7 linked regions of the Homo sapiens genome follow. The protein of the gene in region 1 purifies or fractionates together with the protein of each later gene. This does not show direct contact. Each region holds a gene or a part of one and is shown on either strand. Other genes may lie near its edges. The genes, in order: ZNF638, RASAL2, KCTD3, LIMA1, NAV1, DCLK1 and AGAP1.

What was found.
Region 2: the proteins of ZNF638 (region 1) and RASAL2 purify together in Homo sapiens (affinity purification with mass spectrometry, with the first as the bait; one large-scale study listed by BioGRID). This does not show direct contact.
Region 3: the proteins of ZNF638 (region 1) and KCTD3 purify together in Homo sapiens (affinity purification with mass spectrometry, with the first as the bait; one large-scale study listed by BioGRID). This does not show direct contact.
Region 4: the proteins of ZNF638 (region 1) and LIMA1 purify together in Homo sapiens (affinity purification with mass spectrometry, with the first as the bait; one large-scale study listed by BioGRID). This does not show direct contact.
Region 5: the proteins of ZNF638 (region 1) and NAV1 purify together in Homo sapiens (affinity purification with mass spectrometry, with the first as the bait; one large-scale study listed by BioGRID). This does not show direct contact.
Region 6: the proteins of ZNF638 (region 1) and DCLK1 purify together in Homo sapiens (affinity purification with mass spectrometry, with the first as the bait; one large-scale study listed by BioGRID). This does not show direct contact.
Region 7: the proteins of ZNF638 (region 1) and AGAP1 purify together in Homo sapiens (affinity purification with mass spectrometry, with the first as the bait; one large-scale study listed by BioGRID). This does not show direct contact.

What each region holds. Positions count from the first base shown.
Region 1 is NC_000002.12:71,421,848-71,426,225, reverse strand, and holds part of ZNF638 (zinc finger protein 638), read right to left. Parts: intron 3,413-4,378; coding exon 2,188-3,412; intron 1,577-2,187; coding exon 1,511-1,576; intron 1-1,510.
Region 2 is NC_000001.11:178,099,981-178,104,358, forward strand, and holds part of RASAL2 (ras GTPase-activating protein nGAP), read left to right. Parts: intron 1-4,378. UniProt on the Homo sapiens protein: Inhibitory regulator of the Ras-cyclic AMP pathway.
Region 3 is NC_000001.11:215,580,260-215,584,637, forward strand, and holds part of KCTD3 (BTB/POZ domain-containing protein KCTD3), read left to right. Parts: intron 1-4,378. UniProt on the Homo sapiens protein: Accessory subunit of potassium/sodium hyperpolarization-activated cyclic nucleotide-gated channel 3 (HCN3) up-regulating its cell-surface expression and current density without affecting its voltage dependence and kinetics.
Region 4 is NC_000012.12:50,273,288-50,277,665, reverse strand, and holds part of LIMA1 (LIM domain and actin-binding protein 1), read left to right. Parts: intron 1-4,378. UniProt on the Homo sapiens protein: Actin-binding protein involved in actin cytoskeleton regulation and dynamics. Increases the number and size of actin stress fibers and inhibits membrane ruffling. Inhibits actin filament depolymerization.
Region 5 is NC_000001.11:201,807,783-201,812,160, forward strand, and holds part of NAV1 (neuron navigator 1), read left to right. Parts: intron 1-170; coding exon 171-367; intron 368-635; coding exon 636-828; exon of another isoform or gene 829-920; coding exon 921-1,089; intron 1,090-1,381; coding exon 1,382-1,479; intron 1,480-1,659; coding exon 1,660-1,755; intron 1,756-2,163; coding exon 2,164-2,323; intron 2,324-2,740; coding exon 2,741-2,976; intron 2,977-3,820; coding exon 3,821-3,975; intron 3,976-4,120; coding exon 4,121-4,192; intron 4,193-4,378. UniProt on the Homo sapiens protein: May be involved in neuronal migration.
Region 6 is NC_000013.11:36,124,652-36,129,029, forward strand, and holds part of DCLK1 (serine/threonine-protein kinase DCLK1), read right to left. Parts: intron 1,506-4,378; 5' UTR 1,487-1,505; coding exon 1,111-1,486; intron 1-1,110.
Region 7 is NC_000002.12:235,496,407-235,500,784, forward strand, and holds part of AGAP1 (arf-GAP with GTPase, ANK repeat and PH domain-containing protein 1), read left to right. Parts: intron 1-4,378. UniProt on the Homo sapiens protein: GTPase-activating protein for ARF1 and, to a lesser extent, ARF5. Directly and specifically regulates the adapter protein 3 (AP-3)-dependent trafficking of proteins in the endosomal-lysosomal system.

The sequences.
Region 1 (4,378 bases):
TTACTTAAATTCAATAAGATTACATTTCCTAAATGAAGAGTTTCGAAGTATGACACATAAAAATACATTTAAAGTATTTGTCAGACAGTACAAAGGATTTACTGTTCCATATGTCAAACATCTAATAAGTGCTCTAGAAGACTTACTGGACTTCTAAAAGCACCTCAAATATAGTTAGAAAGTAAACAGCTAATTAGGCTGTTCCATTTATCAGTATATATTGATTACACATTAACTAATTATATATAGAATACATATTTTAAGAAATACAGGCCGGGCGTGGTGGCTCATGCCTGTAATCCCAGCACTTTGGGAGGCTGATCACCTGAGGTCAGGAGTTCGAGACCAGCCTGGCCAACATGGTGAAACCCCAGCTCTACTAAAAATACAAAAATTAGCTGGGTGTGGTGGCAGATGCCACCCAGCTACTCGGGAGGCTGAGGCAGGAGAAACACTTGAACCTGGGAGGCAGAGGTTGCAGTGAGCCGAGATCACGCCATTGCACTCCAGCCTGGGGGACAGGAGTGAGATTTCGTTGCAAAATAATAATAATAATAAAAGAAATATAATGGTTACATTTTGAGAAAGTTGTATGAAAAAATTATTACTAAGACTCAATGACTAACATAACTGTATTTGAAAACAACAGTATCTGTAATTTTTAAAAATGCCGTCAATAGTAAAGAAGATAAATTCCTACCAGGGCTCCTATACATTTAGTATGTTATTAATGATTAACTGCTATTATATATAATAACGACATTAGAATATGTACCCTGTAATTTCTAGGGAGAATATCTACAAGCGATTGTACTATCAAATTAACAAAGCAAACTGAAGTAGCCACAATCCTTACTTCTGCTTTAGTAGCCATAATCCTTATTTCTGCTTTAGTAGCCATAATCCTTATTTCTGCTTAAAACTAGTAACATTTCTCCTTGCCCCAACAACATAGGCCCAAATCTATCCCCTACCAGGTAAGAAAAGTAAAATGACTGAAAAAAATTCTATGAATGGTAAAAACCTAAAATAACAACCAAATATAAAATATGTTTGACAACAGAACTTGGTACCAGTAAAGTTAATCTTAGAGACCATCCACTTAAGGTTAAATTAGAGCCAAAAGGATAACCTGTTTTAACAAAATGAGGATGACTCAAGTCAAATGTCAGTCTCTTTCACATATATAAATTTTTTTTCTGTGTCTACAACCTATTCCTGTCAATATGAGATTGGAGGTATTGCCCTACTCTACTCTCTTTCTGTCCCCATATAACATTTTGCCCGCTCCCCCCGCCTCAAGAAAACACAAGGTGTTTAGACTAGCTCAAGGTCAAAAAGTAAATTAATGGTAGGATTAGAGATAAGTTAAAAACAAAACATCTCATTCCTATCCCTTGCTCTAAACTCTTAGTCACTAACATTGTTAAGGCAGGCACAAGTTATAAGATAGATGAACTGTGCTATGGAGATGAAAAAGAAGGGTTAGGGTCTGTGATCTATTTTTTACCTCTTTAGATTTGGAACTTCTACCAGTAGTGCTTTTAGGATTCTTAGTGTTTTGCTCAGCCAAAGTCTGAAATAGTAAATAAGAAATACAGAAAAACGGAATTTACAACCATATTATTAATGTTCTGGAAAAAAAAACAAAAAACAAAAAAAAACAGTAAACATTACCCAAATACAGTCAATTATGCAAATTATTTAACATGTATACAAAACTAAGTCAACAGTCACTAAACAGTATAGGCACAGTCTGTACAAGTTGTAGTTAAATTCAGTTTTACTGATCTTTTCGTCCCACAATGTCTAGTTAGGCAATCAGTGACCTGATAAAGGAAGCTTCAATTTAAGAGAGGAAACAGTTTCCCATTCAGAAGCAGAGTGGTAAATCACCTTAGGAGATTCACTGCAGACTTTTTTTTTTTTTTTTTAAACCACAGTTATTTCCAAATTGTATCCAAATAATGCTTTTCAAACATGTCAATAAATTATGAACTTGAGTTTAATACTCTGAATGTCTACTGGCTTAAACAATGGAATCATTTAAGAAAAGGAAATGGGAGCTTCCGGGGTAGAGTGAGGAGATGAAAGTATGAAACAAAATTACATCTCCTACTACATAGCTACAGCAGCGGAGCTAATCACTTCAAAGACACACTGTGCCATTCTTCCTACCCTCCTCACCTTATTGTTGCTGTCATCCCGTTTCATGATGGAAGGTCTAGCCTCTGTTTCCTGAGATTGTTTTGTTATATCTCTGTAATCCAGTTTAGAAAGCTTGCCTTGCAGGGCTGAGATCCTTCCACTGCCTCCTCTGGTAAGACTGCTCTGAGTAGGTTTGAATTTACTGCTGCTTTCTGCCAAGCCTGACCTGGCACTTGTGGGTTTAAGCAGACCAAATTCCTTGGCTGAAAGTTTCTTTTCAGCATTTATTTGATCTCTGGGCACAGATTTTGGAAAACTTTTCTGATTTTCAGTTTTTGAAACTGTAGCTTTTGCCTTAGGAGAAGAGACTATAACAGCCTTGATGCTTGGTTTACTGCTAGATACATCTGATACAGCCAGAATACTAGTTTTACTAGTTTCATCAGGCTTATTAGCCTGACCCACTCCTTTATTTGGGTATGCCTTGAATAAAGTGTTTTCTGCAGGCTTTTCTTTCATTGCTGCCATCTTTTCCACCTTTTCTGCATCCATCCTACCTTCATTCTTTTCAGCCTTCTCTGTTCCTATTTGAAGATCCATTCTGGTTTCCTTAGTATTAAATTCCTTCTCCTCCTTTTCATCCATGTTACCTTTTTTTTCAGAAATATTCTTTTTGTCCACTGTCTTCTCATCCCCAGTGGGAATTCCTGGTACTAACGTCACAATACAAGTTGATGGCAATATTTCCGAAACAGTTTCATTTTTTTCTACTTCAGCTACAGCTTCTACCATAGTCTGTGTAATTCCAGAAATGAAATCTTCTGCTTCAGATGGAGATTCTTCTAGAATTCCTTTGAGGTTCCTTTCTTCTGCAAACACACTGTCAGATGGTAACAATGCTGTTTTAGGGTTAATAATTTCTGCCCCTTTCTTCTCCAAGTCACTGTTAAACATCTGCTGATTTAAAGCACACTCCTCGGCATTTTCAGTGAATTGTTCAATACTGACTGAAGCGGATGCTACAAGAGGAATTTCTTCTTTGACCTCCTCTCCTTGAGTTTCAAGCTCCAAAGTTTCAACAGCAAAGTCAGAATCACATGTTGCTTTTTCAGCTTCTTCCTCACAAGGCTCTTCCTGCTGTACCAAAGTTTCTGTTTGAATGCTGGGAGTACTTTCTTCTTCAAGCTCATTAGGTTTAACAGAGGGACTATCAGTTGCTGTTTGCACCTCACTTTCATCAATTGGACTGTTTTTCAAGCCAGGGCTAAAAGTATTTAAAAACAAACAAAAAGAACACAAACAAAAACACAAACAAAAATCAAACTATGATGAGAATTCAACCATTATAAAGAATCCTGCTGATGCCAATTGTTAAGACTTCCTGATGCATTCGTAATAAGCACTGGGAAATCCAACCAATCAGCATAAAATGGGTAAGATGTATTGCTGGAAATACGTAAATAATATAAATTATGACTGTTGATATGTTCCTTTTGCGCTCATGTGATTACAGCCAATATTTTCCCTCCTCTGTCAAGTTAACCCCTGACATTGAAAGGTCAAATGTGAATCTGAGACACTTCAAATATTATCAGGTCCTATTCCCAACAGTGGTAACTGAAATAATAAAATATGTGTACAGTTCTACAATAAAACTAATGATCCATGCATTATGATTTAAAATTTTATAAGTGAACCTTACCTAAAAAGAACATAAACAGAAACTGGTGGGGGGAAAAGACCATACTCTAAATCATATCACCTTTTTATTTTTTTTTTGGATGTAAAATATTTTTTTAATTACCCAAGAACCATATTTATTAATGATAATACTTAGAACATTATTTGGAAAGTATTCTTTATATACTCTATTGAGGATTTAAAGCTAGTGACAAAACCTGATATAATCACCTTATGTGAACATACAGTCTTATAAATATTTGCCTTTGGCTATAAGAAGAAATGCATTAAAAAATAAACCTTCCCAATTCAAGAGAATAATGTATAATTCTAATATTTAACTTAAATGTGTAAGTAATATTCAGAAGAAATGGAGGAAATACATGGCTAAGTATATGTAATTCATCTTATTTCATCATGGTCTTCCCAAATCTAAAGTATATGAAAAGTGAGTAGTCCTATAATTCCAGTACTTTCACCGAGGTAGACACAGAATAAGTTATTTTTATATCAATATTCCACAAATCAGAGGTTTTCTTGAAGAACAAGG
Region 2 (4,378 bases), on another chromosome or scaffold:
CAAGTGGTATAAAGACTATAAATAGCCTTATGTCAGTGCAGGTCAGACTTTACTGCCAGAAAAGTTGCATACAGTCTTTTGCTTTTCAGAGCTTTTTTGATTTAGGAATTGCAGATATGGAATTGAGGATCTGTACAAATCTTCAGACATAAATAATACAAAGTTCTAGAACACCCCTCTTTAAGAATAGTTTGTGTGGATATCCTTTATCTTTTTCAGATAATAACATTTACTGAACACATTTTTAAAAATGGGCCGGGCGCGGTGGCTTATGCCCATAATTCCAGCACTTTAGGAGGCCAAGGTGGGCGGATCACCTGAGGTAAGGAGTTTGAGACCAGCCTGGCCAACATGGTGAAACCTTGTCTCTACTATAAATACAAAAAAAAAAAAAAATTAGCAGGGCATGGTGGCACATCTGTAATCCCAGCTACTCGGGATGCTGAGGCACGAGAATCGCTTGAGCCCAGGAGGGAGAGGTTGCAGCTAGCTGAGATCGTGCCACTGCACTCCAGCCTGGGCAACAGAGCGAGACTCAGTCTCAAATAAAAAAAAAAAAAAAAAGTTGTACAGTTGTGTTTCCTACTATAGTGAGTGAAATTTCTGTGGTTTGCTAAGAAAAAGAAAAGAGATTCACATGACATAGTAGGCTTTACCAAGATTATTAAGGAAATGGTGGCAAGGTAGTGGTTTCGGATCCTTTGTTTCATTAGAAGGAAGGATGAGGTAAGTTGAAATAGAGGGTTTATGTAATTGTTCTTTGCAGTTGCTTTCTTCAGTAGCACAAAGTGATTTGATCACCTTTTAAGTAGGTGAACCACAAAAAAGCATTCAACTAATGACAGTTAATTCAGAAAAACTTCAGCTGTTTGCTCCCTTGTCCCTCCCTATTGGAAAAACTTTTAACTAACTAGAGAGTTGTTTGGTCTTGTTAACCAGGAGGAGGAGTTTGAAGTGTGCTAAGGGCACTGCTAAAATTGCTTCACCCTATCTTGGTAGAGGGATAATTGCTGTCTGATGTTTGTAAAAACACCTTTCTTCCCAAAGGCTGTCAAGTACTTCTTAAGGCTAGCATGTAGAAAACCCTTTTGCAAATTTCATGTAGTTTATTTTATAGTGAGAGGGCAGCCCATCAAGAAGTAATGTGGTTCACAAGTAGAAGGGAAAAGAGAAGTCTTGAGGCCCAGTGCAGTGGTGTTAGTGAGTATACAGTAAACAAAAGAAATAAAAATTGAACCCTTAAAGGCATAAAAACATTTCATTTGCTAGACTATGATACAGAAGTTATCACTTTCCTAATCTCTACAGCTGGGTTCAGATATGAGCTGTCTGAATTTTACCTTCCCTTACCAGGTGTTAGTAACATCAATTAATTGTCTTTGTTGGCTTTGCTCATAAGGGTTCAGTTTAGATCCTGATTGTATTTTTACCCCTCCATAAATTATCTTCAACATTGCTCGAGTTCCATTCACATTGTGTCACTTGTAGCAGACTTTCTAAAAGTACCCCTTACCTCCATCCCTGAGTCTAAGGGATTGGTAATACTTATAGATATTGATTGAGAGAGTGAAAATTTAGTGAGGGGAAAACATTCAACATAGATAAGATAACAAAATTCGGAAGAGTAGTCTGAAAAGTTAAAATGAAACCTTAAAGTCAATAGTTTTTGATATTTTTCAAAGCAATCCTTTAGGTTTTCTCATTGAAGAAACTGGCTCAGGAAGTTTAGCTTATTCCCAAAATTGGAGACAGACTCCACAGTTTGTCAGGATTGGAACTCTTAACCTCAGATTCCTTAGCCTCCTGATTTAGCTTCTAGATCTTGCTGCCTTCCCTTAGGGAGATGGCCTCTCAAAGCTGAAGGTCAGGAAAACTCGACAGTGAGAAATACCAGATTGTTAGTTTCACAGTCTTTTAAGGGAAATGCTGGAAATACCATTACCTAGGTAACAGAAAACAAAAATGGACAAAACATCCATAAAGTAGGAGGATGAAAATAATTTCATAGTAATCCTTAAGAGATAGACCAGAGGACAGATGAGATTTTTTTTTTCATATTTTTCCTAAGCTTATTATGCATACTTTTTTTGGTGCTGTGATTGGAAGTGATGTCTGAAGGAAATTTGAATTTCATATATGATGCTTAGAACCCTGAATAATACCTAATAACTTTGTACCTTCCACTTGAATTTCTAACCTCTGATTCCTGTCATTAAAAATTAATACCCTTTTTCTGATTATGAATATAATTTGTGCTTAACATAAAGAATTAGAATTTTAGGAAAAGCCAAAATTAAAATCATTTGTAATTCTACCTCTTAGAGATAACTATCATTTTTTTTTAAATATTATATTTTAGAGACGGGGTCTCATTCTGTTGCCAAGGTTGGAGTGCAGTGGCGCAATCATAGCTCATGCCCAGGTTGGAGTGCAGTGGCGCAATCATAGCTTACATATTATCCATTGCCTGGGTTCAGGGGATCCTTCCACCTCAGCCTCCCGAATAACTGGGACTACAGGAGTGTGCTACCACACCTGGCTGAGATAATTATTCTTTTAATATTTTATTGTGTTTTATTCCAGTCTTTTTTGTGTACAGATTTTTTTGTATTAATACATATTTGGTATCAAACTGCATATATTTTACATTCTACTTTTTTTCTCTTAAGTGTATTTTCTCATGTTATTGAAAACATTAACACATTTTTTTAAATATGTTATTTATTTTAAAAAATAGGTAATATATTCCTTTGTTCCAAAATTCAGAGTATAAAAAGATATTCCATGAGCTCTCTCTTACTCTTCCTCCCTGCCTCTACAACTTGCCATCTGGCAGGCATGGTCCCTCTTCCCAATCAATAAATACTTGAAATTGTTATGTATCTTTCCATACCTATTCCACGTGCATAGAAGCAAATGTAGAGATAGATAGATATGTAAAAATCCTGCCATAAGTGGGATCCAAGAAATCTAGTTTACAAAAAATTCAGGGTTATATTTCTGTGAGGTTAGTGAAATGACCAGAACAAACCTGCAAATGAAGTTGGCCATGAGTTCTGGGGGTCTGGAGCCGGTAAATTGCTTTATATCTGAAATGATATCATAGGTTTTTACTGTATATATGCATTTTTCTCTATTTTTACACGTATGATAACCCATTAGAACTGATTTTTATCTGCACTTTGAGATTGCTTCTTCTTTCTTCCCCCCGCCCCTCACTTATTAATGTATCTCAGATATATTTTCCTTTCATTTTGTAAAGAGGTACCTCATTCTTTTTATGGCTGCATAATGCCTGAATTAATCATAACTCATTTAATTATTCCCCAAGTTTTGCTAGTTCAAGTGATTTTGCAGTGAATGATCTTGAGTATAAGCCATTTTGCTTGTGTATGAGCATATCTGTAAGAAAAATACATAGAATTGCTAGGTCAAAGGTACGTGTATTTGTAATTTTGAAAGATATTGCCAAATTGCCCTACCTGTCTGTACTTCGCCCGCAATATATGAGAGTGCCTGTCTCCCCACACATAATGAATTATCACGAAATTTTGGATCAGACAATCTGAAAGGTAAAAATGGTGTCTTAATTTAATTTTTTTTAATATCTTTTACATTAAGTGTGATTGAACATCTTTTCATTTTTAAGAGTCATTTAAATATAACCTTTTCTGTGAACTGTACATACCTTTTGCCCATTTTTATTGGGTTCTTGGATCTTTTTCTTAGTGATTTGTAGGAACTATTAGTATATTAAGCAAAGCATACTAAGGAACTCTTAGTATTTAAGTAAAGAACCCTTTATCTGCAACAGTTGCCAGTATTTTCATTTTTCTTATGGTATTCCCCCCACCCTTATGAAGAAATGATTCTTACACAATTGAATGTATCGGATTTTTCTTTTATGGCTTTTTGGTTTTATGTCAGAATGTATTTTATGTTAGAATGGGCTTTCCTGGGAGTTCTCTGGACCTTTATTTTGTAACCTCAGAATAGGAAAGCCCATTCTTTTTTTTTCCCCCTCTACATACACTAAGTACCTAAATACCCTTGGGGGACAAAAAAAAGAGTGGGCTTTCCTGTTCTGAGGTTATGAAATAATTCTCTCTTGGTTTATCTAGTACTTCGTTGGTTTTATTTTTTACATTCAAATCTTTAATCCAGTCTGGTATTAAATATGAGATATGGATCCAATTTCATTTTTTGAAAGATGGCTTTCCAGTTGTCCTACCATCATTTGTTGAAGAAACCAGCTTTTTCGCACTGATTTAAGAAGACTTCTTTATTCTATACAAGATTGCCATTTATATTTTGGGTTATTTCAAGATTTTCTATTCTGTTCTATTGGTCTGTTTATATTCATGTGCCAGTATCACAC
Region 3 (4,378 bases), on another chromosome or scaffold:
GATGTATTATTTATTGCTTATACCTAGCTTCTGAGACTGTAGTATATAATGATGTTAGACAGGATTATTAATGTGAGCTCCCTGATGGTCTATCTCTAATGATTCAGTGTTTTGTATTCTATAGCAAGGGAGAGTACATTGGTCATAAATACCACATTTTGGGAAGTGAGGTAGTAAAGCAGGACAGTTATTGCACAAGTGGTATAGTTTAATATCTAATATGTGAAACTTACAAAGAAGTAGTTTGGTTTTACTAATGCTTACATTCTCAGAGCCTGAGAAGCAATGAAGAATAGTGTAGACCGGTGATTTTTTTTTTTTTAATTGGGAAAGTGATAGGACTCTTAGTTCAAAATCACTGTACTCATTGAGAAATGTTGATGACAGAGAATGGTGTAGAAGCACAAAAGTGGTTGGAATATACTAGCTTAGATTATTATTTCATTTAATTGCAGAAAAATCAAAGATACATAAACTATTTGTTTATCACTGTTGAGTTCGGTTAAGAAAAATAGTCACAATAAGCTGAAAAATATCTAAAATGTCTTCTAAAGTTTACAGATATAGTTTAAAGAATCCCAGATGTATTTTTTTTTTAAAAATCTGAATTTATGAAAGGTTTGGCATGTCTGGTAAGTGCTGTTTATATCAGTAATCTCAGGTTTATATTTTCCTTGTAGTAATGATTAAGTGCAGACTTTTATGTTTTAAGAGTGTTTTGGCTGGGCACGGTGGGTCACGCCTGTAATCCCAGCACTTTGGGAGGCCGAGATGGGTGGAGTTCAAGATCAGCCCGACCAACATGGTGAAACCCCATCTCTACTGAAGATACAAAAATTAGCCAGGTGTGGTGATGCATGCCTGTAATCCCAGCTACTCGGGAGGCTGAGGCAGGAGAATCACTTGAACCCAGGAGGTGGGGGTTGCAGTGAGCTGATAGCTCACCATTGTACTCCAACCTGCGCAACAGAGCAAGACTCTGTCTCAATAAATAAATAAACAAATTTTTAAAAAAAGTGTTTTGTGGATTTGTAATTTTAATTATGAAATAGCATGGAAATTGTTTTTTGCATAATTTCTTTGGGGATGGTTTTGTATGAGGCAAGACTAATTTGGTAAAGTAATTTTTTTTTAGGAAGCATTGTTTTGAATTTATCATCTTATATATTTGAATTGAGGTGACTTGTAGACCCTTGTTTACATATTATGTACATATTTTTGTCAATAAGGAATTCCAGAAGAATTGTGAAATGATAAGTGATCCAAGTGTAACAGCATAACTTCCGTTTTGTTACTGTACACAATACTAAAGATTGCTCTTTTCCAGAACCACCACATTATTACGCAAAATTTAACTCACTGGGTAATAATTGTATGGAGGATGATGCTATTACATTTTCCAGTCTTTGCGTTTGCATTGATCACGATCTTTCTGTGCTTTCACCAAGTGTCTGACATTTCAGAGCAATATACTCATGTAAAGTGACGAAGGAAGACAATTGAGGACATATTTGGATTTCCTCACATATAGTTAAATCATTCAACACAATGGCAATAAAAAGATTTCAAAAGAAAGAAAAATATTTAAACTGTTTAAAAGTGTAATCTTTTTTACAAGTTATTTTTCCTCAAGTTTTTGTATCAGTAAGTTACAAAACCTTTAAAAAAAGAGTAGTACAGTGAAGACCTGTATGATGTTCTCCTAGCTTCACTAATTTTCTACATGGTTAGGTTTTATGTTTATGTCCCTTTTTCTTGCTGAGTTTATGACAGTGTTACTTCTATTAACGAAGAGTAGTTGTGTGAATTGCTGCCCCCTTGGGGCTTATATTCCACTTTAGATCTTTAATCCTTGTGGAGTTTACTTTTTTGTATGTGGTATGAGATTTAAGGATTTATTTTCTTCTCAGTGGGTAGGTAATTATGTTCTGACAATTTATTACGTAAATCATTCTTTGTCAGTGAATCTGATAGCCCATTTTATCTTGCTTTATGTGTGTGTATATACTTGGATCTGTTTTTCAGTTCTCTCATTTCCTTAAGACATATGTCTATTCTCATACAACTTGAGGTGAAGTATGTTCATAATAAGTTTCAAAATCTCACAGGGCATGTCCTCTCTACTGTATTTTATTGAGGTCTTCATGTAGGAAATAACTAGACGTAACTCTATTCTTCGCATAGCTGTCTTAACCAGAGGGTTGGTTCACTAGGCAGCAGTAAGATGATGGAGAGGTGAAATAACAGAGCATATTCTTGTTTTATATTTTGTTTTATTTATTATTATATATTTTTTGTTTTGTTTTGTTTTTGAGATTTTGAGACAGAGTCTTGCACTGTCACCCAGGCTAGAGTGCAGTGGCGTGATCTCGGGTCACTGCAACACCTGCCTCCTGGGTTCAAGCAATTCTCCCACCTCAGCCTCCTGAGTAGCTGGGACTACAGGTGTGCACCACCACACCTGGCCAATTTTTGTATTTTTAGTAGAGACGGGGTTTCACCATGTTGGCCAGACTGTTTTCAAACTCCTGATCTCAAGTGATTCACCCGCCTCAGCCTTCCAAAGTGCTGGGATTCCAGGCGTGAGCCACTGTGCCTGGCCTTGTTCTACATATTTTAAATGTATTACTTGTATGGAAAGTTATAGAGCAAATATGTACCTTCTTTGTAATTTTTTAAAAAACAGGTAAATTCACATATCTTATTAAGAGTTAAATTCTGTAGTTGTTATAGTTATTTTTAAATATGCTGTCCTGATTCTTTTATCCTTTTTTGACATCTCTTTATTGTGTAATACCCTAATTACTATAGAGAAAAACAACTTAGAAGTAATATGTCTGTAAAAGATGAGATTATATAGTTTTTTTTTTTAAGTGAATCCAAGTTTATTAAGAAAGTAAAGGAATAAAAGAATGGCTACTCCATAGCCAGAGCAGCCCTGAGGGCTGCTTGACTGAGTATACTTACAGTTATTTCTTGATTATATACTAAATAAGGGGTGGATTATTCATGAGTGTTTCAGAAAGGAGCAGGCAATTCCCAGAACTGAATGTTCCTCCCCTTTTTAGACCATATAGGGTAACTTCCAGACATTAGATGTCATTTGTAAACTATCATGGGGCTGGTGAGAGTGTCTTTTAGCATGATAATGCATTATAATTAGCGTATAATGAGCAGTGAGGACGACCAGAGGTCACTTTTGTTGCCATCTTGGTTTCAGTTTTGGCTGGCTTCTTTACTCCGTCCTGTTTTGTCAGCGGGATCTTTGTGACCTTTACCTTGTGCTGACCTTCCTTGTTACGCTGTGACTAAGAATGCCTAACCTCCTGGGAATGCAGCCCAGCAGGTCTCAGCCTTATTTTACTCAGTCCCCATTCAACTCTGGTTTGAACACCTCTGACATGTTTTCCCCTTCCCTTTTACAAGGGTACTCTTAATCCTAAGGGTTTCAGAGGGAGGAAGATTCATCTTCTGTAACTTCTGCAGTCTGAATAGGGATGATGGTATTTCTGCCTATTAGGGTCTTCTGCATTCAGAGTAGAGGAGAGCTCAGTTAGAAACTGTCAGTATGGTGAGAACTCTGATTTCTGACAAAAAGTGATGACTGAAAAATTAATAAGTGTTCGATTTAAGAAAGCACTGAGTAAGCTTATCTTGCATTCCTACACAAAGAGAACAACAGCAGTATATTCTACAATAACAAGGCAAAATAAGTAAAATTATCCCAAGTAAACTAAATAAGAAGGCTTTTCATGAACTGGGAAATTGTTGTAACCAAGCTGATATGGAGTTGGAACCAAGCTGATGTGCTAGCCAATTCCAATACATGCCCACAATTAGAATACTGATCCAGATTTCTGTGTTACCCATGCCTCTTGTTTCTTCTGAACAGCAGCCACAGATCACTGCTTGGTCCACAAGGATAAGCAGGATGAGTCCAAATTGCAGAAAGAACTCAAAAACTACTGATGAGACAAATCTAATAAAAAGCATACCATAGTTTTTGAAACAATTTTCCTATTTTCAGTCTTTCATTTTTACTAAAGAAATCATGGTAGGACTGATTTGTTTGCAAAATAAGCTTTAGTCTTATTATACTTGGCCTGATTATTTGTATAAAGTGCAGCAAGAATAATTAGTTCCTATATAGGCTCTTTTTAAATTGACTTTGATAGAACTTTGATCCATAAAGAATCTCAAATGAGACTTCTTAAAGCCTTGAGCCTTGCCATGGGTTTATCATTGCCTGCAAATACCTGTATGAGTTGGGTAAGTTTCTTTCCTTTTGAGGTTTCATGATAACTTGGGGCTTTTGGGCCTGTCAGAAAGTGACTTTCTTTACTTACCCCAGACAGGTCAGAAACCTTGTACAGGGACC
Region 4 (4,378 bases), on another chromosome or scaffold:
TGTGATCAATGAAGCAGTACTGCAGAATGGAAAGGGTGCTATTTGAGAGTCAGGATTCCCAACTTAATGTTGTCATCAACCAATCAGGTGATCTTGGACAAGTCATTGATTCATTGACTCAGAGCCTCATCTGTAAAATGAGAGGGTTGGGCTTTTGATCCCCAAGACTGGACAACCTCTGTGCTGAAAGGATGCCTTTGGAGCTACTACTGTTCACTAGACATTCTGGAATTACTTTCTGTCTCATCTCTAACCTTTCACCTAATTTTAGATATATAGAGCCTGAGGAAAGACTGGATGCAGTAAAGGCAGTGTCCACCGGAGTAGCAAGGGGAGCCTGGGGACAGCTTAATTTGTTTGTGCCCTTTAACTTTCAGGAAAATAGAAGTATAAAAAAAAAATTGAATGGGGTTCTTGCTGTGGGGGTTGGGGGAAGAAAAGAAAAAAAAAGAAGTCAAAAAGATTGGTATTTTTTTAGGCACTCCCATAGACTGACACTTGGAAACTGGTAAGATAAAATCACAGAAGCCCTGCTGACCTGTGCCACAAAACTCGATTATCTACAATGTATGTGAAAAATGTCTCATTTTGTGACTAGAGGGTGTACGTCTCCAAGGCAAGTTATTTAACAACTTCTTCTACTTCATACAGAACCATTCTTAGTGTTTTTCTTTGAGATTGGTATAAACTCTTCTAAGAATATTAATTTTTTGTCCTGTGGTCAAATATTTAACCAGTTTGCCTTTTAATTTTGTATATAGTATATTATTACTTATCTATAGATTTTTTTTTTTTTGAGACAGTGTGTCACTCAGTCACCCAGGCTGGAGTGCAGTGGCACAATCTCGGCTCACTCTAGCCTCCTCCTCCAGGGTTCAAGTGATTCTCATGCCTCAGCCTCCCAAGTAGCTGGGATTACAGGCACATGCCACCACGCCTAGCTAATTTTTGTATTTTTAGTAGAGACAGGGTTTCTCCATATTGGCCAGGCTGGTCTTGAACTCCTGACCCAGGTAATCTGCCCGCCTCGGCCTTCCAAAGTGTTACAATTACAGGCGTGAGCCACCACACCCAGCCTGGATTTTTAAATTTGAGATTTCTTCTGGTGCTGTGATGTTTAGAAGGCCTTCACCATCCAGAGATTGGTTAAATACTCACTTTCATTTCCTTCTGATTTTTACCGTTTTACACTTTATATTTAATTCTTTAATTTGTATTGAACTTACTTTGAAGTACCAAACCAATATGTTTAATGCCTTTGTATATCTGAGTTCCAGATCTGTATTTCCAGCTACCTGTTAGGCTATGTGGATAGTCCCTGTACGCCATGCATCTGCGTACACCCAGATTCACTAAGGAGAAAGCTTGAGGTTGTACTTACCACTTTAATACTTTTCTCCACCCACATTTGATCAATCCCCAAGTTTGGCTGATTCTGCCCCAGGGGTGATAAGAGTTCTTTAATCAGTCTTCTAATTCAGATTCCCCTTTTAGTTTTTTGCCAGAGTCCTTGAGTCCTTGAGTAATCCTTAGAGTTGGCTTCAGTTTTTCCCTTGCAGAAAAGTTATCAGAGTTGTCATAAAAAAAAAAAGCACTGATTTTCAAAATATGGTTCCTTTAATTGCCTGTGTTAGAATTACCTGGCAGTGGTTAAAAAGGTAGAGTCTCAGGTCCCACCTAGACCTGCAGATCAGTGTGTCTGAGGGATGGGCCTGGGAACCTGAAGTTTATCAAGTACCTCAAGAGATTTATATACAAACTTAAGGGGAGACAATGCCTAAGTAAATTCAGTCTAGCTTTCTGACATGCTCTTCAAGACACCCACACCCCCACTCTGACAGCCTATTCTTTTAGGCTTATCTCCCACAACACGACCCACCCACCTGGCACTGTGACCCTACAATAATTCTCTGTTTCCTGGACCTGCCCAGTTCTTTCCTGCCTCTGTGCCTTTGCTCATGCAGTTACCACAGCCTCATGCTCCTCCCCTTCCCCACCCTCTTGTTGAAATCCTTTTCCTTAAGAGCCCAAATCAAATGCTACCTTTTTAAATTTTTTTAATAAAAAAAAGCCTTTTCTAATTTCTTCTACTTGAATCAGTGGCTGCCTCCCCAGTCTTTATACTTAACACTTGATTTTTGCTTCATTTCTTACCTTACTTAATGTTGTCACTATTTATAAATTATTGCTTCCTTGTAAGATTACAAGCCTTTTAGGTATGAGAACCTTTCCCTTCCTTTTCATTTTGTGGCCATTATGCACATATAAACAATTAAGAACTCATTTTATTTTATTATTTTGAGACACAGTTTCATTCTGTCCCAGGTTGGAGTGCAATGGCGCAATCTCAGCTCACTGCAACCCCCACCTCCTGGGTTCAGGTGATTCTCATGCCTCAGACCTCCGGAGTAGCTGGGACTACAGGCACGCGCCACCACGCCTGGCTAATTTTGTTTTTTTTTTGTATTATTAGTAGAGACAGGGTTTCACCATGTTGGCCAGGCTGGTCTAGAACTCCTGGCCTCAAGTGATCTGCCCACCTCAGCTTCCCAAAGTGCTGGGATTATAGGCATGAGCCACCGCACCTGGCCAAAGTACTCATTTAGTACATGAAATATATCTGATCTTGCAAACACACTTTTATATAATAATGTTTGGCTTTGTATCACACATAGAATAAAATTAAAATCCTTTAGCATTGTTATTAATCCGTATTTAATCTGACTACTACTCATCTCTGTGTCATCGCATGCTTCTCACTTACTTCCTAGCTGTATTATTCCTTCCTCAGGGCCTTTGCATTTGCTTTCCTCTACCTGGAAAACTCCCCCATCTATTGTCTTCACCTTGCTGGCTGCATATGTTCTCCCCATCATTCAGGTTTCAGTTCAAATGTCATTCACTCAATGAGGCCTTCCCTGATCACTGCCTAAAGAAGCTGTTCGTGTCCCTGTTCCTACCACAACTCCAGTTACTCTTTTTGTATTTCCTTCACACCACTAATCACAGTCTTTAATTGTCCGGCTTCTCCAGTGGAATGGAAATTTCATGAGAGTAGAGACCATGTCTGTCTTTTTTTTTTTTGAGATGGAGCCTCACTCTGTCACCCAGGGTGGAGTGGAATGGCACGATCTTGACTCACTGCAACCTCCAACTCCCAGGTTCAAGAGTCTCCTGCTTCAGCCTCCCAAGTAGCTGGGACTCCAGGCACCTGCCACCACACCCAGCTAAATTTTTTATTTTTGGTAGCGACAGGATTTCACCATGTTGGCCAGGATGGTCTGCATCTCTCGACCTCATTATCCGCCTGCCTTGGCCTCTCAAAGTGCTGGGATTACAGGCGTGAGCCATCGCGCTCGGCCTTGTCTGTCATTTTTAACATTATATCTTCAGCACTTGGAATACTGCCAAAGACTTGGTAAATGCTAAATAAATATTTGTTGAATGAATGAATAAGCCTTGAAGATGGACTTTTCATTTGGACAAGTCTTGTTTTGTTTTGCAATCCAAAGTGTTGTATTTTTTTTAACTGGACAACAGCTGAGGTCGGTCCATCTGGGTTCAAATCAGGTAGCAGTCTCTGAGGAGTTCGGAAGGTAGCAGGACAAAAGTTTGGATACTGTGACAACCAGGATTAAGTTCCATCTGAGTGCAAGTTTTCTAAGGTGTTTCCAGGATCCAGGCCACTATTTTCCTACCACTATAGCCATCTACTTCCCAGATTGTTACTCTGGATTATACTAGTCTATCAACTCCTATTACATTTTCAAAAGCCAGTGTGGCAAAACTAAAACCCAATTACTGGAATCCACAAACAACCAGAAGTTTTCTTCTGTTTTCATTCTCTAGGAGAAAAATTAGAAAGCTATCTAGAATCTTCAAGAAAAAATGAAATGATTTTCATTATACTTACTATTAACACATGCTCTGAAATGTGTTACTGTTTAGACACACTGTTTAGACAGTGTACTGATTAGAAAGATTTTCAGCAACAGCTTTAAACAAAAGGTTTCTTATTAACATCTAGTTGAACCAGACATTATAATGAATTAGTTCTAATTTCTATTTCTTTTCATTGGTTAGTCTTTTTTAATTCCATTTTTTTTCTTAATGCTGGCTTGAAGTTTTATTTAAAATAATGCTTTGTAGAGTAGCTGACAGTTTTCAAAGTACTTTTGCTTTTATCCTTTCATTTAGTCCTCATAAGCATCCTGTGTGAATCAATACCTGTTTTTGAGATGAAGAAATTGAGGCCCAAAGACAGTGATGATCTTTCCCCTGCCAACTGAAAGACCACTACCCAGCAAATGCCTCTCAATAACTATTTTCTACAGTCCCGAATTAAATGTAGCTTTTAGAAGCTAATCATTAAAATTCA
Region 5 (4,378 bases), on another chromosome or scaffold:
CAACTCTTCTGTCCGTATTCTATGAATCAAGTGAAGTGTTATAGAGGGTGGCTTAATTAAAGTAAATCCCCCGCCTCCAGCTCTCTCTGTCTCAGAAGTCTCAATCCAGTCCTCCCCCATCCCAGTAGTGGAGTCCTAATGTCCCTCTACCTGGATCTGCTTTTTTCTAGCTTCGAAGTTCCTTCAACAAAGCGTTCAGTATAAAAAAGGGGCCCAAGTCAGCTTCCTCATACTCGGATATAGAGGAGATTGCTACACCCGACTCTTCAGCCCCCTCATCCCCCAAACTACAGCATGGTTCTACAGAGACTGCTTCACCCTCCATCAAGTCCTCCACCTCGTCCTCCGTGGGCACTGATGTCACCGAGTAAGTGCTCTTTGGCTCCCTGCCACCCAGCCTGTTACCAGTGTAAGCTGTGGGCTAGAGTTGACAGGAGGCCATTAGACCTTAGACAAGCAGTACTTATTACTGACCTCTCCCTGGGCATATGAGACCAACAGATGGACCTTTCTTCTCATGCTGATTGAATATCAATGGGCAGGAGAAGCCAAGACCACCAACCATGCCTCTCAATATTCTCTAGTAACTCTAGTGCTTCTTCATGTAGCCTGGCTTGACTCTTGCTATCTTACAGGGGCCCTGCTCACCCAGCCCCCCACACTAGGCTGTTCCATGCAAATGAGGAGGAGGAGCCAGAGAAGAAGGAGGTATCGGAGCTGCGCTCTGAGCTATGGGAGAAGGAAATGAAGCTTACAGACATCCGCTTGGAGGCCCTCAACTCTGCCCACCAACTGGATCAGCTTCGGGAGACCATGCACAACATGCAGGTCAGTGTCTGGGCGGACAGCTGCAGGAAAGGGAAGACCAAGGCTTGCTGTCTGTCCAGTCTGCCACCCTACCCTGTCTGTTCTTGCCACAGTTGGAGGTGGACCTGCTGAAAGCAGAGAATGACCGACTGAAGGTAGCCCCAGGCCCCTCATCAGGCTCCACTCCAGGGCAGGTCCCTGGATCATCTGCATTATCTTCCCCACGCCGCTCCCTAGGCCTGGCACTCACCCATTCCTTCGGCCCCAGTCTTGCAGACACAGGTACCTGTGTGGGAGAAGAATCTATAAGGGTGAAGGGAAGAAAAGGGCTTATTTCACTGTTACACCATTCCACTTGCTTTGGTCAGGGCGGTAACAATGCCGAAGCCAAGCAGATGCCAGTGTCCTAAGACACTGAGTTGTAATGGTCCTTCAACCTTAACTACTTTTGAGTTTGGGACCTCCATTCCTTCTCTGTGGCAAACAGAGTTATTTTGGAAAGGATAATGATGGGAAAGTTTAGGAAAGGCTGCGGGTACTCCTAAAACCAGTTGGTTCTTTTCAATCCCCACAGACCTGTCACCCATGGATGGCATCAGTACTTGTGGTCCAAAGGAGGAAGTGACCCTCCGGGTGGTGGTGAGGATGCCCCCGCAGCACATCATCAAAGGGGTAAGGAACTTCAGGGAGAGCCACAGTGGGAATGAACAAATACTGTTACATTTATCCAAGAAAATCTGGACCCTGGGTACCTCCAAAACCAAAGAACTCAACTCCTAAGGCCTTTAGGACCCCGGTTCATGGAGTCATCTGCAGTGAAGCTCAAGAGCTTTTCCTTCCTTGGCCTTACAGGACTTGAAGCAGCAGGAATTCTTCCTGGGCTGTAGCAAGGTCAGTGGAAAAGTTGACTGGAAGATGCTGGATGAAGCTGTTTTCCAAGTGTTCAAGGTAAAGGGATACCTGTACTCAAAAAGGTTGTTCATCCTCTCGTGGAATATATATACTTTTTTAGAGACAGGGTCTCACTCTTGCCACCCAGGCTGGAGGGCAGTGGCGTGATCACAGCTCACTGCAGCCTTGAACTCTTGGGCTTAAGTAATTCTCCTGTCGCAGCCTCCTGAGTAGCTGGGATTACAAGCATGTGCCACCATGCATGGCTTCTCACAGGATATTAAACCGTCCAGGCACTGGGATCCTGGGGACCTTTGAGGCTTTATGGAGAAATGCTACCTAGGAAAAGCATATGCTCTGCACTTTCTCCATCTATTTCTGTTTCCTCTGATAGACATTCTTTGTTGTGGCTTTTACACCTGTGTTTGTATATTTTCTTCTTCTTCTGCCTGTCTTTTCTGTCAGGACTATATTTCTAAAATGGACCCAGCCTCTACCCTGGGACTAAGCACTGAGTCCATCCATGGCTACAGCATCAGCCACGTGAAACGAGTGTTGGATGCAGAGCCCCCCGAGATGCCTCCTTGCCGTCGAGGTGTCAATAACATATCAGTCTCCCTCAAAGGTCAGTCTTTGTCTCTTGGGGTGAGGTGGTGTGGCATGAAGGCAGGGACAGGATCATCAAATAATCCATCATGCATTCATTCACCAAGAACTCACTGAGAAGGTATAATATGAAGATGCTTAAGTAATGTGAGATATAAAAAGATGAGTAAGACCCAGTCCTAACTTTGGCTCCCAGGGACACTTTTGCTAAGCCTTGGCTTCTTGCTTCACTCCTCACCCCCAGCTCACAGCATGTCCCTAAAAAGAAGATCTAAGTTTTCAAAACTAGGGGTTAAGGGACTCTTATGGAACCATGGGGCAAGTGGCTCTGAGTTTCTTCAGGGGGCTCCTAGATAAAGAAAGAAAAGCCCTTTAGGATCCCTTGCTATCCTCAAGACCCTGGTCAATACTCATGCTTTCTGGGGTGGGGGTTCAGGTCTGAAGGAGAAATGCGTCGACAGCCTGGTGTTCGAGACGCTGATCCCCAAGCCGATGATGCAGCACTACATAAGCCTCCTGCTGAAGCACCGGCGCCTCGTCCTCTCGGGCCCCAGCGGCACGGGCAAGACCTACCTGACCAATCGCTTGGCCGAGTACCTGGTGGAGCGCTCTGGCCGTGAGGTCACAGAGGGCATCGTCAGCACCTTCAACATGCACCAGCAGTCTTGCAAGGTGGCTGCCCCCCGACACCCCTGCCAGCCTTTGTTCATGCCTCAGCCTTCCCTAAGACCCTTCCTCGGCCCCTTCCTGCCTCATTGTTCCCTTTTCCTCACCTCTGCCTTCATCTTTCTTCTCTTCTGTGTTCATTTCCTTCCCTCTCTATCTATCCCCTTTTCCAGTCTTCTCCTTTCCCTCCCCACGATTTCTTTCCAGCCTCTTGCCTTTAACTTGTTTCTCCACACTTTCCCTTGCCTTTATGGAGAAAGGCTTTCCTCTCCACACTTTTCCTTGCTTTGTGCACCTTCCTCCTCAGTTGGTCATTGATGAAACTGCATTCTCCTCATTTCTACCCCACTGTCTGCCAACCCTGTCAATCCCATCCCTTCTCTTTTGTTCTCTTCCTTCTACTTTTCTTTTCAGTATTACTCTCTGACCTTGGGCTATCTGGGAAGAAGCACTCAGAATTAAATGGTACATATTACACCCTCCCCTGCCAAAACCTGATGATGTCTCTTGAGTACCCTAATACAATGGAGTTGGTTCAGATCTTTGCTCTTCCCAGCTCGGGGAGGCATGCCCATTAGTAGTAGTCCATGGTACCAGTGAAAATCCATCTAGGAAATAGCATATGTTCCCCAACTTTGGGGAATTTAGGGGCTGCTGCTTAAGAGGGTTGCTTTAGAGCCTTTGCAACCACTGCTTATCACTCTGTGGTAATCTGCTGTAATCAAATTTGCAAGGAACTAAAGGCCCCAGGGGAATCTAGATCTAGTAAGACTTCTTCAAAATCCTGATTTCCAAGGCCGATCCAGCTGCTTATTCCCAAGTGCTGACCCACAGCCTTCTTTTATTCCAGGATCTGCAACTGTATCTTTCCAACCTAGCCAACCAGATAGACCGGGAAACAGGAATTGGGGATGTGCCCCTGGTGATTCTATTGGATGACCTGAGTGAAGCAGGCTCCATCAGTGAGTTGGTCAATGGGGCCCTCACCTGCAAGTATCATAAATGGTAAGTAAGCTGGGATCAAGACAAAATTCATCGAAGTGGGAGGAGGGAGAACCCAGTCCAGGACAACCTATGAGTTGTGTGCATGTGGCAGAAAGCAAGTGTGAAGGCAAGTCTAAGTGAATCTTTTTCCCCTTTCTCCCTACAGTCCCTATATTATAGGTACCACCAATCAGCCTGTAAAAATGACACCCAACCATGGCTTGCACTTGAGCTTCAGGTAAGACCTCTAGCTCTGGATGAACCTTCTGACCCTACCCAAGAGTCTTCAATCCTGGACTCTGGCCAGGAGGCAGTAGATAGGAGAAGGAAAGAGAAGTATCCAGAGCTTTTTGGGCTGGAAATAGAAAGTAGATGTATTTGTCATGTCAGTTACAAGGTGGAGGAGGACACTTGAGGAGAGAAA
Region 6 (4,378 bases), on another chromosome or scaffold:
AGAGGGAGGGATTATATGGCATCCCTCCTGGACCCAGTTGAGTTACACGGCCTGAGCAAATAGTTCTGGAGTAAAAATGAACTCAAGGTGAAATCAAGCTCTTCCAACACTCCATCCAACCTCCCTTTCCCAGATTCTTTTGTGCCATCTACTTCTTCATCATCAGGGCCTTGAGATCTCAATTTCAGAAAAATCAACCCTCCAAAAAGGATCTGCTAGCTTTTTTTGCACCTTGGTATACATTTAATCCCAGTCTTTTTTCTCCAACTCATTTTAATTGGCGATGATTTCTAAGGCAATGACAGGCTTTATGCCCTGTTCAAACAGGGTCAGTCCTGAGGCAAGTGTAGCCCAGAGTCGGTGACCTTCTCTGCTTGCATAAGATACCAGGCTGCATCCGTGGACGCAAACAGTCCTATTTCCACATTAAATGTCTAAAACAGATAATGACTATTAACCTAAATTGGACTTAAAAAATTAAACTGAACAGATTAGTCCCTGCATATCCTCAAAAATCAGAGAAAGACAATAATCCTTTAAACTCAAAAGGAAGCATCGCAGTGGAACGAGCTGTCAGAAAACCTGTTTTGGTCCAGGGTCATCACTATCTTACCACGTAACCACCGACATGTCATTTGAATTTTCTGGTCCTTAGACTCCAAAGATAAAATTAATGGGTTTGATAGCTATCTAAGGTTCCTTTCAACTCTAAAATTTCATGATCCATTTGTCATTTTCAATTCAAGTACTTTCGGATATCGTGATAGCAAAAGTTTAATTTGCATTTAGAAACGAATATAAACTATGAGATTGAAGAGATAAAATGGACTTTTAAAATTAATGCAGCATGGGTATGAGAAAGAAAATAGAGAATGCTGTAGAATTAGGGACTTTTTCCCTTAGCACATTATTATAAGCTACCTGACAATACCATTAATTTTTTTTCCTTTTTACTCTACACAATAGCACATTCGTATGTCTGAAACTATAAGGATCACAGCCATAAGGCTGAATGTCAACTGTCAGAGGGCAAATGCGAATCGGCTACAACACTGGAAATCTGAGCCTGGAACCTGTAGGGTCACGTGGGGGTTATCTCACAGCGCTCACCTTCCACCAGTTGGTCCAGGCTGGAAATCTTCTTGAGCCCATCAATGGTGTAGATTGTTCTCACTCCCTGGGGCAAATTCACGTTATCCGACAGAGTTCGGGTCAAATCAGCCAGCAGGGCCTCAAAAGATCGGAACCGGTCTGGGGAGATGGCATACACAATCCCTTTGAAGTATCGATCTCCGTTTCGATAGAAACGAACTTTCTTGGCCTTCTTCTCGGAGCTGAGCGTCTGCAGCGTGCGGGTGCGGTAGAAGCTGCAGTGGGCGCTGTGCGTCGGGCTCGGCAGGCCGTTCACCCGCGACCCTCGGCTGTATCTCTGCGCCTTATCCCGCTCGTCGAAGTGCTCCAGCTCCATGTCTCTGCCGAAGGACATGATGGACTTCAAGTAGGACCTACGAGCCCCAGAAACAAAAGCAGACACACATATTGATGTAGGTTATATATATATATATATTTTTTTGTTTTTGTTTTTTTTATGTTAGGGACAGGGTCCTGCTCTGTCACCGGGCTGCAGTGAGATGGCACTCACTGAAGTACTCACTGAAGCCTCACACTCCTGGGCTCAAATGATCCTCCTGCATCAATCTCCCAGAGTATCCGGGACTACTACAGGTTACAGGTGCCTGCACCACGCCTGGTTAATTTCCTTCATTTTTTGTTCATTTGCTTGTTTTTAGTAGTAGTGATGAGGGTCTTGTTTTATTGTCCTGGCTGGTCTTGAATCCCTGGCCTCAAGTGATCCTCCCCCGCCCCCCAACCCCTTTGGCCTCCCAAAGTTTGGGGATGATGTTATTTTGAGATCATGATTTCAAAGGGTCTGCTTCAGAACAGCTGGGTGGAAATATTGCTTTAACTGATGACACATTTAATATGAGTTATCAAGTGGGACAGAAAGAGAAAGGGATGTGAATTCCCACAAAATAAACACAGGCTCCTCTGCACGCTGTCAGCAGAAGAGGCCGATCCCAGTGGAAACAGCTTATTAATCAGCCACAAATTTGTTAGAAGCAGCTCCTAGGTTGCCCATGGTTCATCAGGCTTCAAACAGATATTATTCCCAATAGACACAACAACTTTCCAAAGTATTGTCCTTCCTTACAAAAGAAGAAACTGAGGCACAGAAAAATTTCCCCTAAATTGCTCCAAGTAATACAGTTGAGAAATGCTTGTACCAGCAACTCTGTTCCAGGTTTCCCTGACTCCAAAGCCCACTGCTCCTTGCAGGGCAGAGGGCTAATCCTGGTAGCAGGAAGAAAATAAGCTCTCATATCATCATACAGTGAAAGAGAAGTAGCTATGGTGGGCTGGGACAGAAAGAGAGGGCAGGCAGCATAACAGTCAGATTGTAAAAGTTTTACATAATGTTTGTGTGCCCCATGGCCAGATGGAGAGCAAATTAAATCAATCTGTAGGTTGGACCAACTTAAAGAAGATTTTCCAACATATTCACACATTCAATATTTTTAAAAGCAAATTCACTATACTTCATTTACTTATATTTAGTACTTCAGAAAAGTTGAGTTTAAAAAAAGAAGAAAAAGGAAGAGAAGGAGGAGAAGGAAGAGGAACAACAAGAAAGGAAAAAATGTTTGGAAGTACATTTCTTGGTTCTTCCTTTCATTAAGACTATCTTTGTGATTGAAGAAATTGAGGCTTAAAGATGTCGATTTACACTTGACCCCATGCTAGCTGTGTAAGCTTGAAAAATCTACTTGCTCAGCATCTTTAAGCCTTGATTTCCTCAACCACAAAATGGGAATGAGAACAGTACCTACCTCACAGTCAGTATTAACTATTAAATAAATTCATGCACATGAAGTTCTTATCATAGTGTCTGACATGTGATAAGTACTAATTTTTTTATTAATAAAATCTGTTTTTGTGTTCCTGGCCCTGACACATAAAGAGCTAGCAGGAATAGAATCTTTCCTTTCTGGCAAGAGAGGCCCCTGCTTTCTTCCTGATCTCCATCTCATGACCTTTTGAAAGGTACATCTGTACCCCCTGGTCCCCACAGCAAGCTGACTGGAGGACCAGTTCATCCTTGCTGAGGGGTTGGTTGATAAAGGTTTGTGGAGCCTTGCAGGGGAATCTGTGGTTTAACAAGACAATCTAGAAAGTGGAAAGACCAAAGCATTCAAAGGAAAGACACTTTAATGACAAAATTTCAGGCATGTTGAAATAGAATATCAGGAAAATGGAAAATTTGGAGCAAGAACCTTACAAGCACTCCCCAAGTCCCACCATATTAGATGGACATCACCTTTCTGAAGGTCAGTGAACACTCACCAATGCACCACTGTCTCCCCAACCTTTCTTTGGCCCTCAGTAAACTGACCTCTGATCCATTCAGAGTGGCTAAAATTTCACACCTGAAAGCATGACTAGAGATTTGGTACTCCAGAAATGAAGTGAAAGAAAGCAATATTTACTGAAGGTCTAGGAGGTACCTGACACTATTACTCATCAACCAGTTGTATAATATGCTAAAAATTCTCTTCTAAACCTCATATTAATCCAACAAGGTAGGTAATATTATTAATATTCAGGTGAATATGGAATTTATCCAGGGTCCCAAAATTATAACTGAGGGGTTGAGATTTGAACCCAGATTTACTGTAACTCCAAAGCTGGTGTTTTCCATCCCTTGCTCCTTTGAAACTGGTTCCTCTTCAGCATGAGAAGCAGGATTTTGTAAGCCCTCACTCCTAACTAGCTCAGTGACCTTGGACAGGCCACATAACTGATCCAGACCTCGTCTGCACACAGAGGAAGCAGTGGTCAGCAGGCCTCTGATGTTGGTGATTCTATCTACCTGCTTATGGGTCTATTGCTGACCCCACTGAAGGTCTGGGGAGGGAGAAATGAAGTGTGATTTAAACCTGGAGTGTTAATGAGTTCAGTGTACTTTTTTCCCTCCAAATATGAAAACTATTTCTTGCCTCTTAATAACTCATAGTAGTCAGAATTTGCATTTTTCAAAAACAGTTATATATAGGCAGCTCTGAACTGGTTTCATTGATTTTGATGTTAGATAACTTTAAAACAATGATCCCTTGATATCCAGTCCTGTAGGCATTAGTTGTTAAACAGAACCAATTTTTGTCCAGGATATTGGTAACTGCTCTTACTTTTTAATTTATATGGTTTTAAAGTGAGCTCTCTTGTCTTCTAAAAGGGAGTGTGTCTTGGGGGTGGAGTGGAAGACACTCCCAGTACTCACACCAACTCACTAAGTTCTTCAACATTTTGTAAATTATAAAGG
Region 7 (4,378 bases), about 160 Mb from region 1:
GACCCATCTGCTGATGATCAGGTGGTGTTGCAGCAAGGTTCCTCCAGAGCTCCAGCTCTGCGTCTGTTACGGGAGCTGTGAAGGCTGCACGGTGCTCATTTCAGATGGTTCTTCCTGGCTCTCTGGCTGCATCCACAGAAGTCTGATGAAACACTGTGAAAGCCGGCGTCAGGTATTGAAGGCACCTGGCTGAGAGCCTCTTTTGCTGCATGAAGACCTCTGGCTGAGTGGGGTTCACAACACCTCGTTTTTATTTCCCATTCTTGAAGCTGAGCTCTGGGGCTCAAGCACTTCCAGCAAAGCAGTTTGACTTTCTAGCAAGAGGATGTGGTTGCATTTTCCTTTCTCCCTTAAAAGAAAAAAAAAATGCGTCGTTCCTAGATGATGGTTTTTTTTGACAGCACGATGCCTACCTTTGCGATTTGAGATTTTAGGCCCCTTCTTGGCCGGGATCCTTGTCATTTTTAATAAGGCTTAGAATCATTGGGTGAATCCTGTTTGGGACTGGGGTGATGCTGTTATTTTTCTCTTAGAAATAGGGATGTCTACATTATGTGGAGCTGTAGTTAATTTAGTGAGGCTTAAGAACCACTCAGACATGCTGCTGTTCTTTGCATGTTCTTCTGTTATCAATAATGATACCACTTTTCATTTCTGTAGAACTTTAACAGAAATATTTTTGCATGTATAGTCTCATTGTGTGGCTTCACCAACCCTGTGAGGGTGGGTGGGTAGCTTCCTCATCCTCATTTTATGGAGGAGCGGGTGGAGGTTCAGGGAGGGATAATGACCTCCTTAACATTTGACTGAGGTGGTTTGAAGTCTGATCTGAACCAAGGGATCATTTGAATGGAGTTTCTGTCTCCACACTGCATGTGGATGGCAGGAACCCAGTGCTGGCAACTAAGCCTGCGCTGGAACATCACAGTAACTGCAGAGGGCTCCCTGCAGGGGCAGAGAGCTGCCCCTGCCTGTGCGTGCACCTTGGAGGTTTTAAAGTCTAACTGTTTCCAATCAGGACAGCAGGTGCACATCATAACAAATGGCTCAAAAAGTCACTTGTCCCACCAAATAGAAAGCTGGCCACATTTTAGAAGATTTCCAGCTAGGGATTTTTTCCCCTTCCTCTGTATGTGCATACACAGAATTGGGGTCTGACTTCCCAAGCTTCTGGACTACCGTGATGTGGGCACTTCTTTTTTTGTTTTGAGACGGAGTCTCGCTCTGTCGCCCAGGCTGGAGTGCAGCGGCGCAATCTCGGCTCACTGCAGGCTCCGCCCCGGGTTCACGCCATTCTCCTGCCTCAGCCTCCCGAGTAGCTGGGACTACAGGCGCCCACCACCTCGCCTGGCTAATTTTTTCTGTTTTTTTAGTAGAGACGGGGTTTCATTGTGTTAGCCGGTATGGTCTCCGTCTCCTAACCTCGTGATCCACCCACCTTGGCCTCCCAAAGTGCTGGGATTACAGGTGTGAGCCACCGTGCCCGGCCGGGCACTTCTTAACGTTATGAAGAGCTTTTGAAGATAGGGTTTCTCTTGTTGGCACAAAATTCCCACATTTGGCTGCACCCTACTCAAAACTTCACTGTTTTCTGGCATCTTCAGGAATTTTTGCTGTTGGAGTGAGGTGCAGCCTTGTCCAGGGGAAGGATGTTTTGGCTAATGCTTATTTCAGAGCGCGTGGAGGTGGGTCTGGGTTGTAAAATCTCTTAACGATGGACTAAACATATTTTAGTTGAAAGGCCCACCAAGGCTCCCAAATAAAAACACATCCGTAATCCTGTTTGTAGGCATGGGATACAGGTGATTTTGCCCTCAGTCTTGTTTTAAAACACTAGCTTGTCAGAAGAGAACAGTTTTTTTCCCCCAATTTTTGTTTTGTACATTGAGAGGTTTATTCCCCCCTCCCTTCACCCCCAAATCACTAGAGTTTAAGGAAGCATTGCTGATTGTTCCAGATTTATCTGATCAGGTTTCTGGGATGTCCTATGGGGCATGGCATGCTGTGAAATGTAGCCACACAGCTGTGTCGTCTCTGGAGCCTCCGCAGCCACCATGCCCAGAAATGAGCCTGAGAGCCATCTCGCCTCCAGTCTGAACAGCGTGTGTTAGTTTCCCCTCTGGTTCTCCTTAGAAAAGTCCATCGGGGGTTGATGGCATTGAGGTAGATGAATTAACTGCCTTTCTTGTTCAATAAAGCTTGTTCTTCTTTCAAGGATAAAGCCTCTCTTAGCAGTCACACATCGTAATTCAGCTTGCCAGCAGCAGGACCGTGATGTGAGTGATAGCCCAGCCAGCTCATTCAGCCAGGCGGCCCGATTCCCAGGTTCCCACGCATCGCCGGGAAGGTTGGCCTTCCTCTGAGGTTGAGCCCTCATCCAGCCCACAAGCCTCCATCCCCACCAGGTGGCCGATGAGAGGAAACCCAGGCTCTCCACTGGCCTGGCACTTGGCAGGAGAACCCTGCCCTGCACTTCTTAAGGGCATTTCCACAGGGAGATTCCAGGACCCCTTAGTAGTATCTCAGCCCCAGTGTTTGGGGGACCTGGGAAGATGGGTCAGGGTTCCCCACTTTGTCCCATGATACAGCTGCTCTGTTGAGCATGTGTGTCCCACAGAGTGCGGAGTGTCTGAGGTGCATCATCTCAGTTCGTCCTGCAGCGATCTTGTACACAGACGCACTGCTGAGGCCAGAAAGCTTAGGACACTTGTGCGAGAGCGGTGAGCTGGGCCCGTCCGACCTCACCTCTGGCCCTCTGTCGCCGTGTGAGATTGCGGAGCCCCTGTTATTCATACTTCCCATAGGCCGTGTGTGCAAAGCATCCCAAGCTTGTTTCCGCCACCCAAGGCAAGAGGGTTTGAGAAGGCCCCAAAGAACCTAAAGTATTCTGTTCTCTGTAAAGCAGCTGACTGTGGCAAAACTTCCAGAAGCATTTGTTTTCATGTGGAAATGTATTTAGTCCGGTTGATGCAGGTGTGCATGTTTAGGGAAACAAACATTTTCTTCCTGCTGTGGATAAGTGTCATGTTTCTTTGTCACCATTGGCCATGTTCATAATCCTTCAAGTTGAATGAAAGGTGGCAGGTTTGCAGTCCCCTCCTTAAAAATAACACTCAGTTGGCTTTTAGTTGCTTCCAGGTGAGCTCTCGTACCTTGCCGGCACCCGGGACCTCCACAATGCGGGCGTTCCTTGTGAGTCCAGCTTACTCATGCTTCTCAGTTGTGGTGCAGGTGCTCTTTGAGATGCCGCCTTCTCTGCCTGTTGCTCACCCTGCGAGGCTCGGTCTCTGTTGGTGTCACTCATGACCAGCCTTGCCTCGCCAGAATTAAGGCCCTCCTGGTCTCTGCCCACCGTGTTTGGCTCATCTACTTAATCAGCTGGGAGGTCTGGAAGCTGGTTGAGGGCAGAAATCAGGGCTTGTTTATTGCTGTATCCTCAGTGGTTTGATAGATCACGTCTGGCCCTTGAAGGATGCCCAGGGGTTTGTTGGCTGGCTGACTTGCCAGAGGGTCCTTTCCAAAGCTCCTTCTTGGTAGGATAAACAATGTTTATACGCTGCAGAAGTGAGGACAATTTGAAACGTCCCCAGAGCACAGAAGTTAGGGTTAGACACCTTTTGGATTTGGTGGGCTGGCTTGGTGGGAACTCAGTGTCATGTGGTGTTTGGGATGGAAGTGAAATTTTCTTTACTGTAGGTAGGGGAAGCAAAAGATTTGCTTGCTAAATCTTGGCAGCTTTTTCAGATCAGCTGTCTACAACAGGTTGGTGTTTATGTTGGGTGTAAGTGAATTTCAGACATAGAATCAATATTAAGAGGACAAATGGGTGACAGCCTGTGTCACTGCCATGATATAGTATCTTTGGCGTCACACCGAGAGCAAACGTGAGTGTGTGTCAGGTCACATTGAGGGCTGATGGAAACAGATTGCCGGCCCCTCCCATACCTCCCGAGTTTCTAGTTCTGTGGGTTTGGAGCAGGACGCACGAATGTGCCTCTCTAAGAAGTGTCCTGAGGATGCGGATGCCCTGGTCCAGGGACCGCACTTCTGGAAGCATAGCTGTAAAGGAAAGGCAGCTCCAGTTGACTTGGTATCATCTCTGGGCCGTTGTTTCTTCTTCCTTGCTGTGCTTGTAGCCAGCTGAGAAGGTTTCCTATCAGCCTGCCCTGCAGGTTTCAGGTGAAGACACCTAAGGCCAGCTGCTCAGGGAGTTGCTTGTGGTCACGCAGGCTAAGTGTGGTGGACGAGGGACTTAAACCAGATCTGAATGGTTTCAAGCTGGTGTTCATGTGATCTTCATGATGCTGTTTGAAAAGCAGCTGAATGCTGGGTGAGGGGCCTGTCGTGCCAGACCCCTTTAAATTTCATTAGGGATGGC